Linked DNA regions of Homo sapiens: regions 2 and 3 are each linked to region 1. The links come from fine-mapping of genetic effects on gene expression. A gene starts in region 1. Each other region holds a variant in brackets. All regions are shown on one strand. Distances are from middle to middle.

Region 1 (8,173 bases):
TGCCTTCCACTCCCCACCCACTCCTGCTGACAGCTATCGCCATGCCTTCCCTGCCTTCCCTGCTCCACTGGGAGCTCGTGGGTGCTTTCAACAGGTGCCCCTCCCCCCCAACCCAGGTTTGACTGCCTGCTGGGCTCCTGGTGTTAACAGCAGCTCCCAATTTAGCTGTCACTGCCAGGTGGGTGGCTCTAGAAGGATCCGTACTCCCTGCAGGGGTGGGGGAGGGGCGTGAAGCCACAGCGGATGCCTTGGGCACAGCCCAGGGACCCCCACCTTCCGGAGCTCTGCCCCTGCACCAGATTTGTGCCTACAGGGACCAGAAGCCTCCTACTCCCCAGCCCCACCCAGCCGGCCTCCCCAGAGAGAGGCCACCAAGTTGGTTGTGCCCACTGAGAGAAGACCCTGAGCCCATCTGCTGGCGAACACAAGTGGCCCGAGCTCATCTCAAGGTCCAGGAACCCTGGGGACTCACCCCTTCCTCTGGGCACCAGGAAGAGTGGTGGACCAGGGGTCCAGGTGCCAGCCTGGCATGTCCCACTTGGTCGAGTGTCCTTTCATCTCTGTTCAGGTTCCCATCCTGGAGATGGGCCACAAGGGATCCAGTCCAGGGCTGGGGGAGGCAGCCCTGTGGGAGGAGGCCCTTGCTAGTGAAGGGTCAGAGGCATTTGGAGATGGGCAGGCCCAGTGGGATTCTTGGGGCCACTGCCAGGATTTGGTTGTCGGTCCCTTCCTTGTGCCAGCCCCCTTTGCTGCTGCGTGTGGCTTTGATGAATAAGAGATGAGGAAGCATATTAATTATGGCTTAACATGCACCAAAGTTGGGCAGAGGGACTCCTAGGGATGGGAGTCCTCAGGGGTGCAGAACTGATGGGGGAAGACCAGGACACCCTCTGCAGCCCTGGGGATGGGGGATGGTGAGAGGCTTCTGGAGGAGGCAGAGGCTGTGGGCAAAGAGAGGGCTGAGAGAGGCTGCCAAGACGTGGGTCCACCTAAGCTCCCCAGACCTCCTTCTCTGGTCTGGAAAATGGGTGGTGGTAGTAGTGTCTACACTGCAGGACTGAATGGGATGACTCACTCAGCAGGCCTGGCACAGAGTCCTCTCGGGCCTTGGGCATGCAGCCACCCTCTGTGGTGAGAGCAGATGGCAGGCTGACGCCCCCCAGCTCCCTGGCACCGGGACCACATCCCTAGCCGCCCACTCAGAGTGCAGGGAAGGGTTGGTCACATTGACACGCTTGGGCAGCAGGCATGTGCTTGCCGCATGACCTTCTAGCTTCCTTCCTGGTCTCTCCTTGCATTGGCCTGGAGTGGCCCAGAATGTGTGGAGCAAAGACCCAATTTCCTTGCTGCCCATCCCTCCCCAGGAGACACCGAGGGCCTGGATGTCCGTGAGAACCGCACAGGCATGCCAAGGAAAGCCATGGCACGCCTATCTCTCCAGGCGGGAGATGAGCCTCCCGAAGCCCTGGGAAGAAGGGACCTTCCAAGGAGGCTGAACCGTGTCCCTGTCAGCCCAAGACGGGCCACTGCGAAAGGTCCCCTCATCTCAAGCTGGCTTCTATGGGCAGGCATGGAGTTTTGAGTGAAAACCCTGCATGATCCTCTCAGGGGACAGGAGGGGTGAACAAAGGAGGGACAGTGACCAGCTGACCAGGCCCTGAGGCATTAGCGTCTGCCTCGTCCACATGCTGTGCAAGCTCAGCGAGGCCAAGGGGCTGGGCCGAGGTCACACAGCTGGGCAGGGCCCTCATGACCGGCATGCTGGTCGTGGAGGCCGAGCCCCAGGTTGGGGGTGGGGGTGGGAGGTGAGGCAGCCCCTGGCCTCACTGGAGGGGGGTGGTGGGCTGGGGAAGCTGGCAAAGGATGTGCCCTACATGGTGGGTGTGAGGTGGGGAACGATTCGGGCAGATGCCCGTGTGGCCCTGCTGACCCAGTCCAGGCAGGGTGTGACAGGTCTGCCCAGCCCTGAGGTCACAGCTGTCTGCAGTCTCCAGCTCACTCCTGATCCCCAGGGCCACGTGTCCAGAAAGCCTGGGAGCTTGCATCAGCTGGGCACAGATGGCCTGTCCTCCCAGCACCCCTGCTGGGGCTTCCTAGGAACTGACTGGTGTAGACTCCGGGCAGCAGACGGCCAGGCTCTGCCCACAGGGTCCCTGGCTCCTCCCATGAGGTGACCCGATAGAACTGGCTGTGCCCCTTGACCAGGGGCTCCAGCCCTTGTCAAGCCCTCCCTGCTAGCCCCTCACCAGCCGTCAGCTGCCCTCCCTCCCTTGCCCGTTGGGCCCTGGGGGGGTGATGGCTCCGCGGTCGCCTGCCCAGAGAGTACACCACTCCCCATGCTGCCCCCCGACCTGGCTACACCCTGAAAAATGTGGCTTACCAAACCCTCCCACATGCACAGCCTGAGAAGCGGGCTGTGCCTTGCTGGTAGCAGACCGACCGGCTGCCTAGCCCTGCTCAACTCTGCCTCTGCACCCCCATAACTCCCTATCAGCGCTGGCCCACACCTAATCGTTCCAGCTAGCACCCAGGAGTGGGCTCAGCTTCCAGTGGGGAGGGCGCTGGCCAAGGTGCTGACCGAGGTGGCGGACACAGGAAACCAGCCGGTCCCCCAGCGCTCCCTCTGTGGGCCTTGGGCCTGCTCCCACTGCACAGACAGGTGGGGAGGTGGAGGCCCAGGTCCCAGCCCAGAGCAGCTGGGAACAGCCGGACTTGATGGCTGGAGAGGGCTGTGGTGCCAGAAGCCTCCAGGTTAGCCCTGGCTCCCCATTTCCCCCCATGCCCATCCCATGCCCCAGAATGGTCACTTTGGCTGCTGCAGGAGGGGTGGGAGGGGCTTTAAACCTATGAGATAGGGTGTGGGGTCACAATCTTCAATTGTAGTGGGCCGCTCTGGGTCACTGGTAATTGAAGAGACGCCTGCATAGTAAGCACGCAAGTGTCCTCTCAAGCCCTCTCTGCAAGCACAGAGCAGCCCGAGACTGGAGCCTGGTCCACCCCAGCGCTGTCCTCAGACTGATGGTCAGTGCCTCATGACTCATCTAGGGTCTGATACATCCCTGTGGTGAGAGCTCAGTTCCTAGTCTAGGGGCTGCTGCGTGCAGGGACCCTGGAGGAAGAATGCTTGTTTAGGGGTCAGGCCTCAGCCTCCCACTGGCTCTGTCAGCTTCGCCTGAGGTTCCCCATCTGTGCAATGGGTGATGACATCTTGGTGTGGCTCTGGGAGGACCTGTTGAGCCACCTCAGGGGCTGAGCTGGTGGCACTCGGCAGCCAGCACCCTCTGGGGAGGTGGCAGTGTGTGCACAGCCCACCCCTTCAGGAGGCCAGGGGACAGAGTGGCTGGGGGTGTCTGGGCCCCACCTCACCTTCTGTGTGGCTGGGAATGGCATGCACTCCACAATGCCCTCATAAGCCTAGGCTGGGACAAGGGTGATAGGGATAAAGCAGGCCAAGGTGATGAGGGCCACAGAGCGGCAGCCAGAGGCATGTGGGCAGTGCAGCCTCCACACCAGGCAGAGGGCCCGGCCAGCATGGCTCCACCCTGGGAAGCTGCCTGCCACTGGGATCAGATGGGAGCACCAGGGCTCTGGGAGGTCCTCACTTCCTCTGGACAAGGCAGGCAGGTCACCAGCCCTGTGCCCTGCTCATCTCCCTCAGGGCCACCTCCATGGCCAGGGGCAGGCAGAGAGCACAGGGCTGCCCAGTCACCAGGTCTCTCTGCTTCATATCAGTGGACCTGGGCTCTGAGGGGAGCCATCAAGACCTCAGGCTGGCCCACTCCGTCCTTGAGTCAGGGTCCTACAGACTGACACCAGGTTGGCCTGCAAGACCCTGGTCCTGTCATGCAGGGTGGGCCTGGGGAGGACCCAGCCCAGCTGAGCTGACTCCCAGCACTCCTCCAGGTGCAGGGACAGCCTGGCAGTTGTCTGAAGACCCCGGGATGGGCTTAGGAGCTCATCATCATCGGATGCCCCCCGAGCAGAAGACGGAGAAGGAACACCCCCACCCTGTGTGGTGTGTGTAGGGGTGTCACTGGGTTCTCTGGCTCCATGACGCCCCCCCGGCCCCGCTGGGGGCTGGCTTAGTAGAGTGGGGGATGATACTAAGCAGGCGGCCTCGGAGAGCGTCTTCTGGGTTTGGAGGCCACATTCCGCAGGAAGGAAGAGGTGGGGGACCCCTGCAGGGTTATGGGTAACATCAGGCCTGGGTCCCCTCCCTGGGGTGGTGCAGAGAGGGCCACAAAGGCCCAAGAGGGCCCCCAGAACGCTCTTAAGCCTTGAGCCTGTTTCTTACTGAAAAATGGGGGCGATCGTGCTCCAGCAAGGGGCTTCTGTGCAGGGGGCGGGGGGGGGCGGGGGGTTCATGGGTTTCGTGAGGCCAGGAAGCGAGTGGGTCGCGCAGAGGCCATCCCCAGGCCTCAATGGCCCCAGCCGCCATCCCCTCCGCCGCCTGCAGGGCCGCCGCCTCTTCAGGAATGCGCGGCTTTGTCTAGGGCCGGGTGGGCTGAGCACCTCCTGCTGCCCGGCCTACGCTCCCCGGCCAGCCGCGCCGCTCACGCCCCAACTTGGGCCCGCGCCCCCCAGCCCCCGCCCAGGCCCGCGCCCCCCAGCCCCCGCCCAGGCAGGCGCCTGCGCCCAGGTGAGGGCCCCGCCCGCCGCCGCCTCCCGCGCCCTGCGCGCCCGCGGCCCGAGCCCCGCCCGAGCCGGGCGGAGCGGAGCGCGCGGAGCCTAGACCCGCTGCCGGGCCGGGGCTGGGCCGGAGCGGCGGCGCCTGGATGCCGGCCCGGGGCTGGGCCGGAGACTGGCGCCCGCCCCGAAGCGACTTTCGGTCCCCGACCCGCTCCGCCTGACCCCTATGATGAAGAGGGCGTCCACTGGAGGTGAGTGTCCACGCGGCGCCAGAGCCCAGCAGGCGGCGGGGCGCAGAGCGGGGTGGTTCGCCCCTCCTCGGAGCCGCAGGGCCCGTCCAGGGCTTCCAAGGCTGGGGAAGCGTAGCCGGGCGGCCGGGAGGGCCACCGCAGTGCCGCGCCAGGCTGGGGCCAAGGGCGCCCCGGCCCCGGGAGGGCGGAGCCGGAGGCAGCAGGAAAAGTTGCCGCTTCCCGGGTAAGTTGACGGCGATGGCGGGGCCGGGGGTGGCGGCCCGGGGGTCCCCGAGGCTGGGCCAGGTCCGGGGTGGGGGCCGCGGGCTGGAAGGACGGGGTCCGGCCTCGGCGCCGCGGCCACGAAGGGGTTAATGAGCGGGTTTTTTTGCAGAAACGCGGGTACCGAGAGTAGGTGGAGGTATCGGGCCGCCTCCGCCCCCGCCTCGCGGACTGGGCTCAGAACCTCCCGTTTTTCTGAGGTCAGGCCTCAGGGGGATCAATGGGGGCGTTGGCGGCAGTAGAGGGCGTGGGGGACAAGGTTGTCCCAACGCTGCCTCCAGGGCGGGCGGTGAGAGGAGGCAGCAATGCCCAGACATCCGCAGCCCGAGGGACATTGAGAGGCTTGGCTGGGGGAATCAGGGGTGGTGGGGCAATCAGCATCCCCTCCCTGGCAGCCTTCGTGAGACTCCCCCGCCCCACTGGGTGTGAGGTCCCGCAGTGGGGGGCAAGGGAGGGTGGGCTCCATGTGAGTTGGGCATGCCCTGCCTGGAGGGTGCTCCCCAGGTGCCCACCCAGGCTGCCCTGCTGATGTCCATGGTGTCGCAGGCTGCACACACGTTTCCTTGCACGTGCACATGTCTACACGGACTGCACACTTGCACACCTCTGGTGCACATGCGTGCCAGCGCCACCCCAGTGTACACATGCACGAACACTGGGTGCACACACGGACTCTGAGGGTGCATATCTGTGTCCTCGCCCCCGCTTGCACGCCCACGGCCACACATGCATGTACGCGACATGCCTGCTGTGGTCTCCACGGGTGGCACATGCTGGGGCCCCTTTCACAATACCCACTCCCGCACCCACATGCTCGTCTGTTGAGTGGGGAGGCCAGGCCCACAGACAGGGGCAAGACATCCTGGGCCCCACCTCTGCCTGCCTGCCTCCGTGTCCTGGGGGTCCCCGCCTCGGGCGTGTGTGCGTGTGTGTAACTTGGTATGCATCTGCACGTGTGTCTGTGCGCGTGATCATGTGTGCCTGCGAGCACATAGGCATATGTCTCTTTGCCTCCAGGGTGTGGGTGCCCCTTGTGTGCCTAGACAGGCTGTGGCCTAATCTGGAGCAGAGGCCCTGGAATGTGTGTTGGGGGCTCATTGAATGCCCCCAGCCCAGGGTGTGAGGGGCAGGGTCTCCCAGCCACTCCGCACCCACCAGGGCTGAGGCAGTGATAGATGATGGTGGGCTGGAACCTGTCTGGTCAGGGAAGACCCATTTCAGGCCATGAGGTCAACACTGTGACCAACAGGCCAGACCCTGGGCACCCTTGGTGGCCGCTGCAGCTTGGCTGACTGGAGCACGTGACCCAGCGTGACTGCAGAGGCCCCGCCTCCAGTACCTCAGTTTCTCCATGGTGAGGACCTTCTTGGTGAGGGGTTCCGTGGTGGGCTCCCCTACCTCCGGTGTTGTGTAGGGTGCTGAGCAGATGGATGCCATGCTGCATGATGGGCAAGGGTGGCCCACTAGCACTGTGGCAAGGGCCCTGGGCTGGGGCTTCAATTGGCAGGCCACACCTCCTGCTCCCCTGGCCACCACCAGAGGCTCATCTATAGAGTGGGGACCAGCAGGTTATCCTTGTAGGTTGTGTGAGGGTGAAACATACTAGCAGAGGGGCAGCTGAAGCAGTGGGGCTGGCCAGTCTCTTTTTCTAAGCCTCAGTCTTCCCATCTATAAAGGGGGTACTGTTCCCTGTTCTTCTCTACTGAGGTGAGGAGGAAGTGAGCTCCCATGCCGGGGGTGGGAATGGGTGGCCATCAGCACCTAGACCCCACCTGGCAGAGGGGCACGTGCAGGGCCTGCCGTGGCAGAACCGTGACCTGGATTTGGGTCCTGGCTCAGCCACCTGCTGGCAGTGTGACCTTGGGTGTGACAGGTCACCTCTCTGCCTCAGTCTTCCTCACCTGCACCATGGGCCAGTGGTCAGGGATTATCGGGGCACTTCCAGGCTGAGGCTGGGCGGAATTGGCCCGGCTTTCCCTGTGGAGTTCCGACTCTGGTGCTTCTGCCTCAGAATGCCCAGAACACCTCCCCACACCCCAACTCAGCAGAGTCCTCCTGGGACCTTTGCATGGCCAGCTGGCCCCTCACCCCATCCATTTGCAGAAGGGACAATAAAAGCCCCTAGTCAGGCAACTCAGGCCACAGGTGAGTGGAGAGGGGACAGGGCAGGGATGCTGCCCAGCTTGGGAGACCCTCCCATAGTACCTTCACTCCCTCCCTGCCCTCCCCCTGTTCCTCACCTGGGGGTCTGTGGAACCCCTGAGCCTCAGTTTCCCTGTGCCAGGGTCCTTCCACTGGGACTGGCAGAAACGTAGGTTTGCATGGAGTGAGAAGCAGGGGAGAGGTTGAGGGAGGGCCTGGCCCAGCAGGTCTCTGAAAGCCAGAGGGCTTGTGGAGGGTCTATGGAGGACACCCCCACAGGGGCTGGGGCCCTGGAAGGTGGGGGAAGGTCCTGTTGTCCTGGGAGGCTGGGGACTGGCCCACAGCCTGTGGAGGGGCTGGGGTTTGTTTGCTGTTGCTGTGAGTGACAGGCAGGCTGTGAGGGCCAGGGCATGTGGGACCGTGCCCTCCGCCTCCCTCTGCCCAAGGACAGTGCAGCCTTGTAGCACTGCCCTCTCCTCGTCCCTGCCCCAGCCTTGAATTCATGCTTTGTGGCACGGACGGCCCTGTGCAGCCGGTGCAACACCAGGAGGGTCCAGCTGGTGAGGACAGGACGGGTGGGAGGCAGAGGAGCCCTCCTGCTGTCCTGGGCCTGTGGCCCGGAACCTCTCACCGGGAGCCTTGGTCTGTGCACCTGGGAAAGGGGTCAAGAACAGGAAGCATACGGGGAGTTTCAGGATGACCTGGAAATGAACAAATGCATGTGTGAGCCAGGCGCCCTGCCCGGCCCTGGCACAGGGTTAGTGAGGGCTCCCGACGCTTGGCTACTGTCTGATCAATGAGGTTCATGCCGTCCCGCCCCCATTCTGGCAAGCCTGACCTCTGATCCCCAGGCTGGCCTGCCTGACCCTCTGCAGCCACCCAGGGCCTGG
Region 2 (8,173 bases), 21 kb after region 1:
CCTGGGTGCCATAGTGAGACCCCATCTCTATTTAAAAAAAAATTAGCCAGGTGTGGTGGCATGCTCCTGTATTCCCAGCTACTCAGGAGGCTAAGGTGGGAGGATCGCTTGAGCCCAGGAGGTTGAGGCTACAGTGAGCTGAGATTGCACCACTGTACTCCAGCCTGGGTGACAGAGTGAGACCCTGTCTTAAAAAATACATATAAATAAGTAGGCTGGGCACGGTGGCTCATGCCTGTAATTCCAGCACTTTGGGAGGCCGAGGGAGGCAGATCACTTGAGATCAAGAGTTTGAGAACAGCCTGGCCAACATGGTGAAACCCATTCTCTACCAAAAATACAAAAAATTAGCCGGGCATGGTGGTGTGTGCCTGTAATCTCAGCTACTCGGGAGGCTGAGGCAGGGGAACTGCTTGAACCCAGGAGGCAGAGGTTGCAGTGAGCAGAGATTGCACCACTGCACTCCAGCCTGAGCGACACTGTGAGACACCGTTTCAAAAAAATTAATAATAAAAAATAAATTAATTAATAAATATGTCCAGCCAGTGTCAGTGTGACAGTTGTGGTCATTTTGATAACAGCAAGGGTTCAAGAAAGCCCTGGGAGTGATGTCTGATTAAATGAACTGTCCCCCCAGTTCTTGCTGTCGACATCTTTGACAAGTTCAACTTCACGGGAGCCAGAGTCCCATGGTTCGACGCCATTCATGAAGAATTCCCCAGGGAGCTGGAGTCCTCCATCTCCTTCCCAGCCAACTTCTTCAAACCACCTGAAGAAAAAGGTAGAACCGCTTAGAAACCTGCTACTTCCCTTGGAGTCCCCAGCGTTCAGGGAGGGGAGGGCTCCCCCTGCGGGCATCCCAGGAGGATGAACACGCCATACTCCCTGCGCACTGAAGATCCGGGGCCGGAGTGTTCCGAGTGTTCGCTGGCACCAAGTCCTATTGGTGACAGCAGGTTGTTTTGTCCAAGTGCTTAGGTAGAGGTTGAGCATCCTAATCCTGAAATCTGAAATGCTCCAGAATCTGAACCTTCTTGAGCACCAACCTGACACTTAAAGGAAGTGCTCATTGGAGGGTAAGTATGAAATGATACTTTAAAATAAAAAAAAATCAAAATCCAGGCCGAGCACAGTGGCTCATGCCTGTAATCCCAGCACTTTGGGAGACCGAGGCAGGGGGATCACCTGAGGTCAGCAGTTCGAGACCACCCTGGCCAATGTGGTTAAACCCCGTCTTTACTAAAAAATACAAAAAATTAGCCAGCTGTGGTGGTGGGCACCTGTAATCCCAGCTACTCAGGAGGCTGAGGCATGAGAATCACTTGAGCCCAGGAGGCAGAGGTTGCAGTGAGCCAAGATGTGCCAGCCTGGGTTACAGAGTGAGACTCTGTCTCAAAAAAAAAAAGAATCCAGAATGTTCCCAAACATTTCAGTTAAGGGATACTCAGCCTTGTAACTGATAACTTGAGAAAGAAAAGAGAACTGAAATTTGTATGTGAGCTGATTGTCTTTGATGGGCAGTTGAACCCGTGAAGTTGAACTTGTCAAAGATGTTGACAGCAAGAACTGGGGGGACAGTTCCTTTAATCAGACATCACTCCCAGGGCTTTCTTGAACCCTTGCTGTTATCAAAATGACCACAACTGTCACACTGACACTGGCTGGACATATTTATTTATTTATTTATTTATTTATTTATTTATTATTATTAATTTTTTTGAAAAGGTGTCTCACAGTGTCGCTCAGGCTGGAGTGCAGTGGTGCGATCTCCGCTCACTGCAACCTCTGCCTCCTGGGTTCAAAGCTGCTTCTAGCTGGGCATGATGGCTCACGCCTGTAACCCTAACACTTTGGGAGGCCGATATGGGGAGGATCGCTTGAGCCCAGAAATTCAAGACCAATCTGGACAACATAGGAAAACCCCATCTATACTAAAAAAGTTTTTTTTTAAATTACCTGGGCATGGTGGCACATGCCTGTAGTCCAACCTACTCAGGAGGCTGAGGCGGGAGGATTGCTTTAGTCCAGGAGATGAGGCTGCAGTGAGTTGTGATTATGCCTCTACAGCCCAGCCTGGGCAACAGAGCAAGAACCTGTCTGGGTCGGGGGAGGCAGGGGAAGCTGATTCTAAATAGAAATAGAAATTTTAGACTCACCTTCCCTTCCCTGCAAGAAACAAACAAACAAAAACAAACAAGAATGCTGTCTGTGTATGTACAAATCTTCACTCCTGGGTTGAGATTATGATACAAAACAGTTTGAACATTCTGAACTTTCTTAAGGTGCTTTTTTTACAGATCTGTGACAATTACTAAAAACTTCCCCAAATAAAAAGGACATGAAAAGGTAAACTCCATAATGGACAGTTTAAAATTGGAAACCTTCTTAGTAAATGGATTTTGTCAGGTATATGGTGTTACCTCATGTGTCTTTTTTTTGTTTGTTTTTTTTTTTTGACAGAATCTCACGCTATCGCCCAGGCTGGAGTACAGTGGCGCGATCTCCGCTCACTGCAAGCTCCGCCTCCCGGGTTCACGCCATTCTCCTGCCTCAGCCTCCCGAGAGTAGCTGGGACTACAGGCGCCCGCCACCACGCCCAGCTAATTTTTTGTATTTTTAGTAGAGACGGGGTTTCACCGTGTTAGCCAGAATGGTTTCGATCTCCTCACCTCGCGATCCATCCGCCTCAGCCTCCCAAAGTGCTGGGATTACAGGCGTGAGCCACCGTGCCTGGCCCTCATGTGTCTTAAAAAGAGGGGTGACTCTGATGTGGGGTCATGCTTGAAACTGAGAGGACGAGGTCCCCGACCCTCCATTGCAGCCAGCTCTCTCTGGAACTAACAGAGTGAGAACTCGCTCATTACCAAGGGGAGGACACCAAGCCATTCATGGGGGACCCACCCCCATGACCCAAACAACCCCGACCACGCCCACCTCCAACCCTGATCACATTTCAACATGAGATTTGGAGGGGCCAGACCTCAAAACTGCATCAGATACATTCATGTTTAAGCAGTCCATCTCCAGAACTCTTTTCATCCTGCAGATCTGAAACTCTAGCCCACAAAACACCAACTCCACTCCCCAGCCACTGGTGCCCACCGTTGTTTCTGTCTCTGAATTTGACTCCTCTAGGGACCTCCCATAAGTGGAATCATACAATATTTGTCCTTTTGTGCTTGGCTTATTTCACTGAGCGTAATGTTCTCTAGGTTCACCTGTGTTGTAGCAAACGTCAGACTTTCCCTCCTTTTGAAGGCTGAGTAATATTCTGTTGTGTGGATGGAGCACGCATTGTTTATCCACTCACCTGTTGACGCATGCCTGGGTCGTTTCCACCTTTCGGCCTGTGTGAATGGTGCTGCTCTGAACAGGGGTGAAGACGTATCTGGGCGTCTGCTTTCAGTTCTTTTGGGTGTATACCCAGAAGTGGGCTTGCTGGGTCACGTGGTAAATCCTGTGGTTGATTTTTTGAGGACGCACCATACTGTTTTCGGTGGGACATCTGTTGGGTTTTGAGAAGCACCTGCTGGCACTGAGAGCTGTCTTGGGGAACACAGGTGCTCCTGCCGGAGTCCTCACGCTCTGCTCACGTTGCAGAAGGCCCCCTGGTAAGGCCAGCCAGCCGGAGGACCACCCCGCAGACCACACGCCCAGGGCCTGGCACCGAG[G/A]GGGAGGCCCCGATCAGCAGGTGAAAGCGACACCCTGATGACACTGGCTAGTTCACCTTCACTCTGGTCATCGTTTACTGTACCCCGGGGCAGCTCCCGCCTGAGCCCTATGACCCCAACCGCCGCAGCCTCTGGTAAGGCCTGGGTATGGGGCACATGGAGAGGGCCCATTCCAGAGGCTCCTAAGTCAAAAGAGATTCCACAAGTCAAAATCCTGATCCTGATCAAGCACAGGCCTTCACAGTGACATTTCACTGTGACCCTGGCCCAGAGACAGAGACCACTGTCCTGCAGTGTCCCTGGGAGGGAGGTTCTGGGTCTGCCACAGGACACCACACCCTGGAACATTGCACACCCTTTGCCTGGCCTTTTCCCAGTGTTTCTGTCAGAAATGCCCCCTCCCAAGCATACACCCCATCTTGTGCCCCGAGGGACTCGATTCTCTCCCCACACACCCGACCCGAGGCTGTCATGGGTAGTGCCTGCTGCTGGCCCCAGGGTTAGGGCTGCTCAGCCAGTCCTGGCTGGAAAGGATGAATGTCCCACAAGCAGCTTTGGGGCCTGCTTGGTGGGAGCAGCCCGAGGATCCGCCCTTCGTCCTCCTGCCATTTCCCACTTCCCTGGCTCTGGGGTCCTCATGTTCACGTGGTTCTCAGTGACTGGGTGATTGACCCCCATGAGCTGTCATTATTTTGGTGTCTTTTGCTGGACATTTAAGCCATTCCTTGTGTTTCTGCCATTAGCTATTATGGGCTGTAACATCTTTGCACCTGTGCCTTCTTTCTTTTTAAATTTCTGAAGTCCTAATTTGACCCAAAGGTGACACATCTCCCTGTGTGCCCTGTCAGTGATGAAACCTGCTCTGGGGATGAAGATGCCGTGGGGCCCACAGATCCAAGCTCTCGGAGTGTGATTCTGTCTCCCCTAGAAACACATCCATGGCATGTCCTCAGGGCATTTGTGCATGGGATTAAGCAAATGTTTCCTAATCATGTTTGTCCCTGTGCTCTGGCTTCTTGACCTCAGGCTGCCTCACTGGCCCATCATTAATACGTCGATGGTGAGCGCACTGGTGTACAGCGAGGGGGCTCCACTTCCGAGACCCCTGGAGAGGCCCGTCCTGGTGGAGTTCACCCTGCTGGAGATGGAGAAGCGAACCAAGCCTGTCTGTGTGTTCTGGAACCATTCCCTGGCGTAAATGTGATGCCGGGAGTTCTGCATCTTCATGTGAGGGCTTTGCCAAGACACAGAGAACCCGCAGGGTTGTTGGCTCAGCGGCAGATCGTCCCACGGGGACAGTCTCTTGTGGTCTGTGTCTCCCCCTTCAGCCCCCTGTGGGGCAGTGAGCCTCCTGCTCTGCTTCTGTGGGTGCATCAGAGCCCCCCCAGATGCCCACACGCAGACGCGCACAGGCCTGCACGTGGAAACACAGACATGCGCACACGCAGGCCCACACACAGACGCACACAGAGCTGCACGTGGAGACACGTGCGCACACGCAGGCCCACACGCAGGCCCACACACAGGTGCACGCGGACCTGCACGTGGAGACACAGATGTGTGCACATGCAGGCCCACACACAGGTGAGCGTGGACCTGTGTGAACAGATGCGCGCAGACCTGCACGTGGAGACACAGACATGCAGGCGCACAAAGAGATCCCTCAAGGCTGACACCCAGGAAGGGGCCTCTCACTTGTGGGACTCCCGAGATGCAGTGGCCAACACGAGTGTAGTGCCCAGTTCACTGCTGGATAAGACAGAGGCCTGTTCTGGTCACACATGGGAGGCAGAACCCAGAGACTGGGCCCAGGAGCCCTTCTGCTGACAGTGGGAACTCCCAGCTACGTGTGGGGGTCCCCATACCAGACAAAGGTCCCTGACCTTAGTCTTGCCCGAGAGGCCGACACAGCCCAGCTTTGGGGTCTGGCTTTACCCACAAGAGGCCACACCTTGCCACAGCACTGTTTATCTGGCCTGTTTCAGAAGCACCGTCAGAGTGGCGAAGGCAGGAGGTGGTGCACGAGAGTCTACGTTCTAGCATCCATTCAAGTGAGGGAAAGGCGTTTCGTACTTAGAAAAATGCAAAATTAATGATTCTCACCCACACATGAGACTGTGGATTCACCCATGTATGAGATAGTGGATTCAGAGCCATGCTGTGGCTCTCATCTGCTGGGAGCCAGTAGTGTTTGTGCTTTGGTTTTGCTTTTTTAGCTACATGGTTTATGTGAGGTGCGGACTTACTTGAGTTGCTCTGTCTTTACAGGGAGCTTGCTTTTTCTCTGCTGGTTTGTTTTCACTTTTGCTGTCTCTGTTTAGAAGAAAACATTAGAACTGGGGTGTGGTGGAAGGATGGGAGCACAATCTGGGAGGGGAAGACCTGCTCTCTCTCCACATACCAGGAGGGAGTGGCAGGAAGGGGAGACACTGTGCCGGACTCAGGGAGTCAAGAGCGTGAGCACCCCCAGGCTTCAATCTGCTGAACGTTGTGCATCTGGGGGCGCCCGTGCAGCAGGAACACTCTCCCCATCACAATTCCTCTGGGCACAGTGGAGAGCCATGAGTGGGGGCTGTCCTGGGGGCTGCGCTATGGTGAGTGAGCCCACGCCAGGAGCCAGTTCAGCCCAGCCTCATTCTTCTCCTGCTTCTTTGCTTTCCAAGTTCTAGTTCATAAGCAACCAGCACAGTACCTGGAATGTAAGAGGCGCTTGGCTTATAAAAGAGAGAAGAAAGGAACCCCTTTCACCACGAGGGACGTCAGGCCCAGCTCTCTGTCCCGGGCATTCATCTTTTTTCCGGCAATTAGCTTCAGCTCTAATGACCTGCTGTCTGCTTTATGTTGCACCTATGATTTCCAGATTGTAAAGTTTGTGGCAAATGTATTAACGTTCACATCCCATTTACAGATTAGCAAACTAAGGATCTGAGAGGTTATGTGATTTTCCCAGTCTGGCGGAGGGCAGGGCCCTGTCAGAAGCCGAGACACACCTCGTAACAGCTTGTTATTTGGGGCTTCCCATCAGTGAGGCAGGAGTCATAATGGGGCCCTGGCTTCTGGGCAATTCCCATAAAACATTGTGCCACCTGAAGATGGAAGTGTCAGAGGAAGGCGAGATGTTATTTCTGAAAGCATCTACCCTCAGAAAGAGACAGAGGAGTGCATCGCAGCTGTGTGAACCCGGGGTGGTGGTGGTTCCAGCAGCGGGGCACGTGGTGGACGCAAGACGGCCCCGTTTGAGTTTTGCTGCTAGGTGACATGTAGAACTTGAACTTCAGAGGGTGCTCCTTGGAGGCCCTGATGAGAGAGACACAGAAGGGAAGGGAGACTGTTCCCATGGTCCTGCCTCTGCGGCAGCGAGCCTGCTGCTCTTGCAGCTGGGTGGCTGTTCGGTGCAGGGGGCCGGTGAGGAACACGGTGGGGAGCAGCCTGCGAGGGCGCCGGGCTTTCAGCACTCACTATACCTGCTGTTTGGTTTGGCCAGGATGGCCTGGGAGTCCCCAGGGCCGGGCAAAGACTGCCCCCAACAGACATGGGCGGAGGGAACCGTCTCACCCCTGCCTCTTCTCCCTTCTCTACGCAGTGTCAGTGGGACGGGAGGGTGGTCTGCCCGGGGCTTCAAGCTCCTGTCCAGGAACCGGACCCATGTCGTACGCCAGTGCAGCCACACGGCCAGCTTCGAGGTGCTCATGGACGTCTCCAGGTGTGAGATGGGCATCTTCTTGTGGCCACTATGCCCGCTGAGCCTACCCCCAAACCTGCCCCTCCTCAAACTAAATCTTCCATTCTAAGCGCTTTGAACGAAGCAAATCAACCAATTAAAAAAATATATTCCAGGATTGGCCAGAGTCTGTGAAGATTTCCATAACAAATCCCCGTTACAAGGGTTTTCAGAGAGCCCTGGTTGTGCATTAAACCCCGCGATGGCAAACCCAAAGCTCAGGCTCTGAGGAGCTCTTGGAGTCTGCCCCTCGCTTCAGAGATGGTCTGTGCGAGGGTGCCGCTCTCCTCCCGCTTTGATCATAAGGAAGGTGACAGCTGCTGGGGACGGTAGGCACTCTCCCTCAGGGCCACAAGCTGGGCTGCAGGATAAAAGACTGGGCGGCTAATGTTTAACCTCTGGCATTTTAAGCGGCCTGGGAGTGTGAGCCGGCCATTGTGGGCCTGCAGATGAACTGGGGAGTGGCCCGAGTGCTGTCCTCGGCAGGACAGTGCTATCCAGCCAGGAAGTGGGTGGCAGCCAGCCTGGGAGTGGCCTATGTGGGACCCTCCTGTCTAGGAGTCAGAGCCAGAGGCCTGGGTGGCCTCCCCTGGCCCCTCCCCAGGGCTGCGCTGTAGCTCAAGGGCCCAGGCCACCATCCTTCCCGAGGGCTTTCTGATGTGAAGTGGCCCTGGTTTCTGTCACAGTCTTGGAAGGGTGAGTCAGCCCTGGGGCAGGGCTGGAGGAGGGCTGTGGCTTCCTGTACAATGTGCGGGGGAAGCTGTCCCACCTGTGCCCCCAT
Region 3 (8,173 bases), 67 kb after region 1:
CCGTGGCGTGGTGCCTCCTCCATGCTCTGGTACTTTGTGTTACTGTGGACCACGTGCATCTGGGGGGAGGCACAGATGTGGGAGATACCCAGCTGCCCTCACCTTGCTCTCTCTCACCTCCGTGGGAGCACTCCGGCCACCCCACCTTGTTCCCGAGTCTACCTCCATAGCCTGGCGCTGCCTGTCCAGGCTGTGCTCCGAGTCTGCTCGCCTCGGGCCCCCCCACCGCCGGCAGTTGAAGTGCAGCTGCAGTGCGCGGTAGACAGGCAACAGCAGCCCAGCCTCCCAAATCTCCAGGTGGTTCTGAGGATCAGTGTCCATTCAGAGTAGCAATGAAGGGGAGGAGGCACACGACACCCTCTCTACCTCACCACCTGTCCATCTTGTGCCATTAGGGCACAGGGTATGAGCAGAGGCCCTTCCTCAGGCCAGGTTTCTCCCCAGTGCGGCCCCATTGCCTCCATGGAATGGAACCCATGGTGTCCATGGCTCCTGCTGGTCAGCAGAGCAGAGCTCCACAGACTGCAGGGGAAACCCTTCCCCCCCCCACACCCAGCATGGCATGGAAGAGGGCAGAGGGCAGCCCTCCTGGTGTGGGGCTCTAAGCCCAGCTGTGTGTGGTCAGGGATCCTGGCCCTGCCAGAGACCCTGACTCCTGGTCCTCAGGGGCCATGGCTGGTTGTGATTTGTAAGGTGGGACCTGGCACCTACACAGAGGGTGCATCTGGACTGCTGTGTGAGGATGCTCCTTTCCTCTGAAGCTAGCCCCTGTGGAGGGTTTTTGGCCCTGTAGGTTGTCTCAGCTCCCGTGTGTAGGGGGTCCTGGTCCCTGTGTACACGCAGGAGCTCTCATGCCCTGTGTGGGGCTCCTGCCTCTGCCTAGGAGGGGTCCTGACCACAGGGTGCTGACTTGTGTGGCTGTCATTCTCCAGGGTCCAAGGGCCTGGAGGTGCTGAGTCATAGCCTCGGAAGATGAAGGGCCCTAGGGTAGAGTTCCGCCGGACCCTGTGAAAGTCAATGTTGATGAGGGACTGGCCTGGGCCCCCACAGGCAGGGGGCCAGCTTCTTCCAGTGGGTGGGGACTGCTGGAACAAGGACTGGGGCCTTTGGGGTGGGGGGGGGGTCAGGGAGGCAGCCTGGGGGTGCAGCAGAGAGTGGCCCCCATACACCCAGAGGATAGCCCAGCCTCAGGAAACCTAGCTCCCTGCTTCCCCCACACCTGAACAGGTCACAGCACCCCCCTTCTCTTGTACCCTGCATCTGACCTATCCATCTAGTCTCCCAGTTGGCTGCCCCATGGTGAGATGAAGGTGGAAGGGTCTCCGGCACACAGTTGCACACCCACACTGGGACCTCTATCACCTGCACACACTTGGGCTGGCCACAGTAACGGGCACACCAGCCTTGACTGACTCGGGACCGGCAATCACAGCAGGCCCAGACTCACACACAGGGGGACAGTCACGCACTTGCACCTGATGCCCAGTCAGTCTACTGGGGCAGACGACTACAGACAGAAACCTGCAAAGGCCACAGAGTGCAGGGTGCAGACTGTCTCTTGGCCACTCTTGCACCACTGGCACATGCTCTGGTGGTCCCAGGACACAGACTGATCTGACACAGCCTCACATGACACTCTGTCCTCACCATACTTGAGGTCCTGGGAGTCATAGCACCAGGCACCTATAGAGACAGTGGGCAGGAGGCTGAGCTGAGAGGCCAGTCATCTGGGCCCTCTCCAAGCCCCATCCCATCAGCTGGGGTCCAAGAATGAAGTAGGTCAGGGGTTTAGGCCAGGGGAGGCCAGTGAAGAACCTTCTCTCCTGTCACCCCTACCTCAGTATTTTCTCTCCCCAGTCCCTCCCCACTCCCAGTGGCAAGACCTAAGGGGTGGTGGAGCATGGCAAGAGGGTAGATTGGAGGCCAGACAGGAAGAGTCCTGGTGCTCACTCTCAGAGTCTGCGCCACACCAGCTGCACCGCAAGGCGAGCATGATGCCAGGGGCGTGCGTGGCTCAGTGGCAGCCGCAGCTAGGAAGGACTAGAAAGTGGCTAGACCACGCAGCCAGGATGCTGGCCTGGCTACTACATATTTATTCATTAGCTAGCTGGGCTAGGGGCGTGGCTACTGAGGAGAGGATGGGAGGGGTCGGTGCCCAGGCAGGGCCACCAGGAAGAGCGCGAGCGCTCCAAACTCACCCAGGTGTGCTCTGGTCCCAGGGCTGCACTGATGCCAGCAACAATCGCTGAGGTTAATCCTGCAGGGGAGGGGTGACCTATTATTATCCCCACTTACAGTCCAGGAAACAGAGGCTGGGGACCAGAATGACACACCAAAGCCACCAGCAAGAAAGGTCAAATAGTGAGGGCACCTTGGACCCCAGTGCCCATGACTTTCGGGGCAAGGATGGGAGGAAGGTGTAGGATGTCTCTTGCCCCACTGTGGGCCCGGAACTGCCACCCCATCCCAAGACCACAGCCTCCCTCCTACCCAGGCCCCCCTGCGGATCCAGGCCAAGACGGAGCCCTGCAGGAGGTCAGAGGAGGGGACTTCTTTGCACCCTGCGCCTCTTTCCAATCGCCAGAGGGCAGGGCCCTACCCACATTGGGGATGGGAAGACAGCCCCTACCCAGAGGCAGGGCTCGGGGCTCTGTCCAGAGTGCTGACAGTGACCTGTGTGCTCGGGACTCAACACCACCACTCCACTCCTGCCCCAGCAGATGGGATAAAAAATGAGGGGCCACATCCTCGAGGCTCCCATCCCTGCCAAGGGACTTACCAGTTCCTTTCCTAACCCTGACTCCTCTCGTGTCCGGCCGCAGGACGTCCCCCCAGTATACACATCTGGAGTGCCCCCAGAGCAGGGCATGCAATCACACTTCCTGGGCCCACTACCCTCTGAGACCTAGAGATGGCACTGCTGGACATGAGTGAAGAGGCCCCAGAGGACCTAGGCTACTTTGTAACATTAGGTGGCTTGGACTGGAGGGAGGGGCTGTTTCCAGCCACCCGGATGATGAGGGGAGCTTAGAGGAAATGGCGCTGACGGCCAGGTTCCAAGCCCTGCCCTACCACCCCGTCCCATGCTAGCTCCCAGATGGTGTCAAGCAGCCTTGCCTTTATGTGGATCCTGTGCACGTCAGCAACACCTGCCAAGGCAGCAGCCGATGCCCCAAGCAGGGCTGGGTGCTGCAGGATAGCTGTAGGCAGCTCAGGGCTGCTGCTCTCCCTGCACACTCCACCT[A/G]GGGGCTCCAGGCTCAGCTCTGCCTGGTCCTCAGGGGGTTTGATGGACGCCTGCAAGGGCTGCAAACCCTAGGTGCATTCTGCTGAAAGGTGGGTACCCAGCCTCTTCCACCTTAGCCTGTGGCAGCCGTGGGGGCCACACCAAGGACTAACCATGCCTCTTCCGGAACACAAGTTTATTTGGCATTTGGATGAAATGATTCTCACAGCATCTTAAGAAAAGTTAGTGTCAACCCAACCAAAAACTAAAAACCCTTAATGAAAACATAAAAAAACAGGCATCAAGACAATGTACAGTATCAAATCCCACCTCCGCATGGCAGGTCAGAGGGCACCTGGGCTCTGAGAAACCGTGGCAAGCTGGTCCTAGAGGAGGAGGACCCCTGGAGCACAAGGTTCAGCAAGGGTGACCCCGGGACTTGCTGGTCAGACTGGGGACTGCAGCAGGCCTTGCAAAGGGGGCATTCTGGATGGTGGTGCAAGAACAGATGAGCGAGTCCAGCTCTCCTCATGCTCCCAAGGGCCTCCTGGAGCCACAGTGGCAGCGGTGTTCCAGGCAGCCCTGCCATGTGGACCTTCTGCCTGGCCCAACGTGCCAGTGGCCTGAGTGCTTGTGGAGGCCCATGGGGAAGGGGCCACCCAGCAACCCCGGCCAGCCCAAGGCCCACCCTCTGCAGCCTGCATGGTCCACTTTACCCCGTTTCCTCACTGCCCCCTACGTGTCTGACCGGCCCCTAATGTTCCTCTGGTCCCCAAAGGAAGCGTCCCAGTCCCACACATCTCGTGCCAGCCACCCTGTCCCGCACACACAGTTCTGAGGCCTGGCAGGAATCCTCTGAGCTCTCAGGCTCAGGCCCGTGGGGGACTCTGCTGCGTGGTCCTCGGGCCCTCACTGGCCACCTGGCACCCATAATGCACATGCCTGCTGCTCTGGAACCTGGCTGCCCTGCCCCAGTGCATGTGGGATCCACGGCATGCTTCCTGCTTCGTCCTCTGCAGCCAGTAGGGGACTCCTGTGGCCAGGACTTCCTTGTTAAGTAGCAGCCCTTCTCCAAGGGGAGCACAAGCCTGCCCGCACACAGCCTCCAGCATCATGCTCCAGCAGGCCAAGCTCAGGGACAGGCAATTCAGTAACAAAACTCACAGCTCTGGACAGTTCTGGCACAAAGGTCAAGTCTGTCTGTGGGCAACTCAAGATTCTCATTCCACATGGGATGGAAAAAATGGGTCTCCAGCCACAGTGTGAGAATGTGTCAAGAAGTGGACTGTGCATGGAGTCCATCCCCGAGCAGCACCACAGAACTGCATGCTTCAGACAGGCCTCCCAGGTGCTGCCCCGCTGGTCTGGAAAGACTGAGCGAGACAGCACTGCCTCAGCACAGCCCAGGATGCATCGATGACCCTGGAAGAGTGGGCCCCCAGTGACCCGTGAAGTTCCATGTGCCACCCTCACCTGCAGACGCTTGGCCACATACACACACAGAGACACAAACATACAAAGGAAAGATCCAGACATTCAACGTAGAAAAGATATGGATGTGCTAAAAATCGCACAGAACCCGCTTAATCTCCAAACCTCAGAAATGTTAAAGGCCCTGTGTCAGGCAACAAAACCACTGCCCAGGAGCAGGCAACAGGGTCCGTCAGGCAAAAGGGTGCCAGGAAGGGCCCCCAGCCCCTGCGCTGCTGAGGAGGGGCCGGGAGGTGTGCATGCGGCCGCTGGGCACTGAGCTGCAGTAGTGGCGGTGATGTAAGGAGTGGACTTTAAGGAGATAGATGCAGCCCAGGATGGTGGTTTCAGCCACCCCTCCTGCAATGAAGCAACCCTTTATGGCACAAATGGGGCCGGGGGCAGGCCCAGGGGCAATTCAACAGGAGGCAAGAGCCCAGGGCTCCAGAGTGGAGAGACAGGAGGCAGCTCAGTCCCCAGACCCCAGCAGAGCATCTGGGGCCTCGGCCCCACTCCAGAGCTTCTTCCTGAGGGAGCCATGCACAGCAATGCTGGGAGAGGGACTGATGGGGTGGGGTCAGGCCTCCTGCCACAGAGCTGGGCTGCAGAGCCCAGATGGAAAGACACAGTGAAGAGCTCAACCTCCTTCCAAGCTCTCCTTCTCAGGGCTTCAGGTTCCAGAGCCCCAGGGGAGCTCCCAGCCAGGGGCAGGGTCACCTTGATATTCACAACTGGGCTTGTGGGGGCCATCTTCAGTGCAACCGTTGTGACAAAGTCAAGAGGCTGCCTCCCTGAAGCAGACCCACTGCCTACGCCACACTGACGGTCCAGAGGCCCCCTCCTGAGGGCGGCCAGCAAGGGGCACTGTGGCAGCTCCCACTGTGCCTGTCCCAGACTGGGTCAGCAGGTCTCTCTGGACAGCACACTGCACCAAGTAAGCCCACCAAAAACGCATCAGGTGTGGCCATGGCCCACAGTACCTTCTTCATTCCCTGCCTCTAACATGTGCGGTCTGAATGAATTTTGTCACTCTTCTGCCATTTATAAAGGAGAAGACAGTGATCCAAAGCTATGCATGTTTCTGAAGCCCTCAAGGAAGCTCGGTGCAGGCCATCACTTCTTTTGGCAGAAGGCGGGCTGTGGTCTCTATGTACACACGCGAGCCCGCCAGTGACGTGCGGCAGTGCGTGGCGTCCAGGCTGGGACAGGGGCCTTTCAAGTCTCCCCAGGGACCGGTGTTTTCTACAACAGACAGGTGCTCCCAGACCGTTGGGGTACAGGCCAGGCCGTCTACACCACAGTATTGAGGGAGCTGCGGCTGTGGCGGCCACCCCCTGGCAGTGCCTCTGCAGCTGGGGTGCTCCCGCTCTGGGCAGGGTCAGGGGGCACGAGCAGGGCGCTGCTGCTGTCGGCAGAGTCTTCCAGGTCTGCCAGAGAGGCCCCCGCAGTGGGCAGAGGCTGCTCCAGGCGCCGGAGTAATGCACCTTCACTCCCACCATCCCCAGGGGCTGGCAGGCTGACCTCCACAGGCTCAAAAGCATCATCGTCTGCAGGAAGAGACAGAGGGGTGTCAGAGGCAGGTACGGGCCTGGCACAGGGGATGCAGGGGAGCTAGGCAAAACCAGGAGACACTCCTCCTGCCTGAAGGCCCCCCTGAAGCTGGGTGGTGAGCAGGACCTGGGTGGCTCCCCCGGGCCTCAGATTTTGAAGGAGGAGCCTGCCCCACATGACACCTGTTGTACCTACTGCCCCCTGTGGCTGGGAACCTGGTATATGCAAGGTGCAGGGCCCATCTCACAAAGGCAGACACGGGCCTGTCCCACCATCGGTGTGAGGTAGGGGAGACACACTGACCAGCAGTCACTAGAACAGAGGGGCCCAAAGGGAAACCGTCTCAGACTCAGTAAGGTGAAGACCCGGCTCAGCAAGAAGGCAGGGGCATTTGTCATCAGGGAGGCACTGGGCCCAGGTGGGTGGAAGAACATTCAGGGCTGCAGCTGGAATGTGGCAACCGGAGTGTGGGCAACAGGGCTGCAGTGAGCGGCCTGGAAAACCACACAGGTGTTTGCAGGAAGCTCTGATCCAAGGCAGGCTGTGTGGTAGGCAGTCGACTCGCTTTGTTTTGCCCGATCTTTATTACTTGCTTTTTTTTTCTTTTAAGAGACAGGATCTTAAAAGATTGCACACTGGTGTGCAGTGACGTGACCATGGCTCATGACAGCCTTGAATTCTGGGCTCAGGTGATCCTCCATTCTCAGCCTGCCCAGTAACTGGGACTACAGCTGTGCCCACTATGCACGGCTAGTTCTGAATTTTTTGTGGAGAAGGAGGTCTCACAGGCTGGTCTCGAACCAACCTGGGCAACATAGTGAGACCCCTCCTCCCGCCTCAGCCTCCCAGAGTGCTGGATTACAGGTGTGAGCCACTGCGCCTGGGCTGCCTGCTTGTCATTACCATAGGCTGTCTCTGAAAGCTAACAGCACAAGGCCCCGGTGATGCACCTCCCTCCCGGCCAGCCCCTCACAGCCCCCACCCTGCTCTGCAGCCTGGCCCACACAGGTGTCTGGGATCTGCTGCCACCCACCACCATCCCTTGCAGGAAGCTGGTCCTACCCTGGAAGACTGTGACAATCTGTGTCATGAGGGCAGGGGTCAAATGCAAGTCTTTTCTGCACCCCCAGATCATGCAAGAGCTGTGGCAGCTGACTAAACAAACGAACAGGACTGAGACCTTTAGGCACAGCAGCCCCAGCCTCACAATGCCCATTCTGCCGAGATGGGCAGGCATGCAAGGAGCCAGCCACTTTGGGGTGGCACTGCCTACCAAATATACTACAGGTTTGTGTGTGTTAGGGGGCCTAATGCACAGGGAGATGGGATGGGACACCTGCACTGCTCAACAGAGACAGAGACAGGCCAGGGGTCAGGGGCCTGCCACTCCTTAGCTACACAGCCTTGAGGAATGGCGCCCACTCTCAGATGGGTGGTAGGCTCCAACTATGGGCCAGTAGCACAGAAGCCACGCTTTCCTCCCACCTCACAGAGCTGCCTCCTGACACGACAGGAGGGGCTGTCACCATGGTGTCTCTAGCTCATGTGTCTACAGACAAGTGATTGGCTCCTGGGTCTGGGCCAGCCCTGTCTTCACAACCACCACTGTCGGGCTCCCCAGGTCTCTAGAGCTGGGCTGAGGGCCCTGAGGGCTGCCCAGATGACAGGTGCTCACAGAAGGCAGGGAGGTAGGAGGGAGGGGTCCCAGGCCTTCTCAGAGCTCTCTGCACAGATTGCCAAGGGCGGCCAGGCAGGGAGATCAGGACCCCTTCTGCACGGGCAGCCCCAGGAGAAGCCTTAAAGGAAAAACCAAAGACAAAGCCGGAAAGAAGTGAGGTCCCTAGGCCTCTGCAGCTGGGCAAGAGTGCTGGGCTCAGCCCCACGTGCCAGGTTACTTGACAAGGTGTTCCCTCTCCCTGGGGAGTCAGG

Which allele goes with the higher level. Positions count from the first base shown, and alleles are read on the strand shown. Sizes are in standard deviations (SD) of each study's normalised expression.
As copies of A replace G in region 2, the expression in anterior cingulate cortex of the gene that starts at base 4,690 in region 1 goes up (moderate effect, 0.51 SD a copy in GTEx).
For the expression in lung of the gene that starts at base 4,690 in region 1, allele G in region 3 goes with a lower level than allele A (moderate effect, 0.46 SD a copy in GTEx).

The links. PIP is the estimated chance that this variant, and not a neighbour inherited with it, causes the effect.
Region 2: its variant is fine-mapped to the expression of DGCR5 in anterior cingulate cortex (GTEx, PIP above 0.99). The same link has a PIP of 0.9 or more in cerebral cortex and prefrontal cortex.
Region 3: its variant is fine-mapped to the expression of DGCR5 in lung (GTEx, PIP above 0.99).

Annotation. Positions count from the first base shown.
Region 1 is chr22:18,965,779-18,973,951 of GRCh38, forward strand. DGCR5 (DiGeorge syndrome critical region gene 5) reads left to right here and starts at 4,690. Exons shown (of 6, transcript NR_110533.2): 1 at 4,690-4,880. RefSeq lists an enhancer at 3,771-4,602.
Region 2 is chr22:18,987,120-18,995,292 of GRCh38, forward strand. It overlaps DGCR5 (DiGeorge syndrome critical region gene 5), which reads left to right. Exons shown (of 6, transcript NR_110533.2): 2 at 638-781; 3 at 3,601-3,805; 4 at 4,698-4,898. Among named protein-coding and RNA genes, the nearest start is that of DGCR5, 21 kb to the left of the region's middle. The variant G/A (reference allele first, on the strand shown) is at 3,672.
Region 3 is chr22:19,032,882-19,041,054 of GRCh38, forward strand. It overlaps DGCR2 (DiGeorge syndrome critical region gene 2), which reads right to left. Exons shown (of 10, transcript NM_005137.3): 10 at 3,405-6,240. The coding sequence ends at 5,984. It also overlaps the pseudogene CA15P1. Among named protein-coding and RNA genes, the nearest start is that of FAM246C, 7.4 kb to the left of the region's middle. RefSeq lists a silencer at 3,138-3,307 and an enhancer at 3,791-4,411. The variant A/G (reference allele first, on the strand shown) is at 3,245.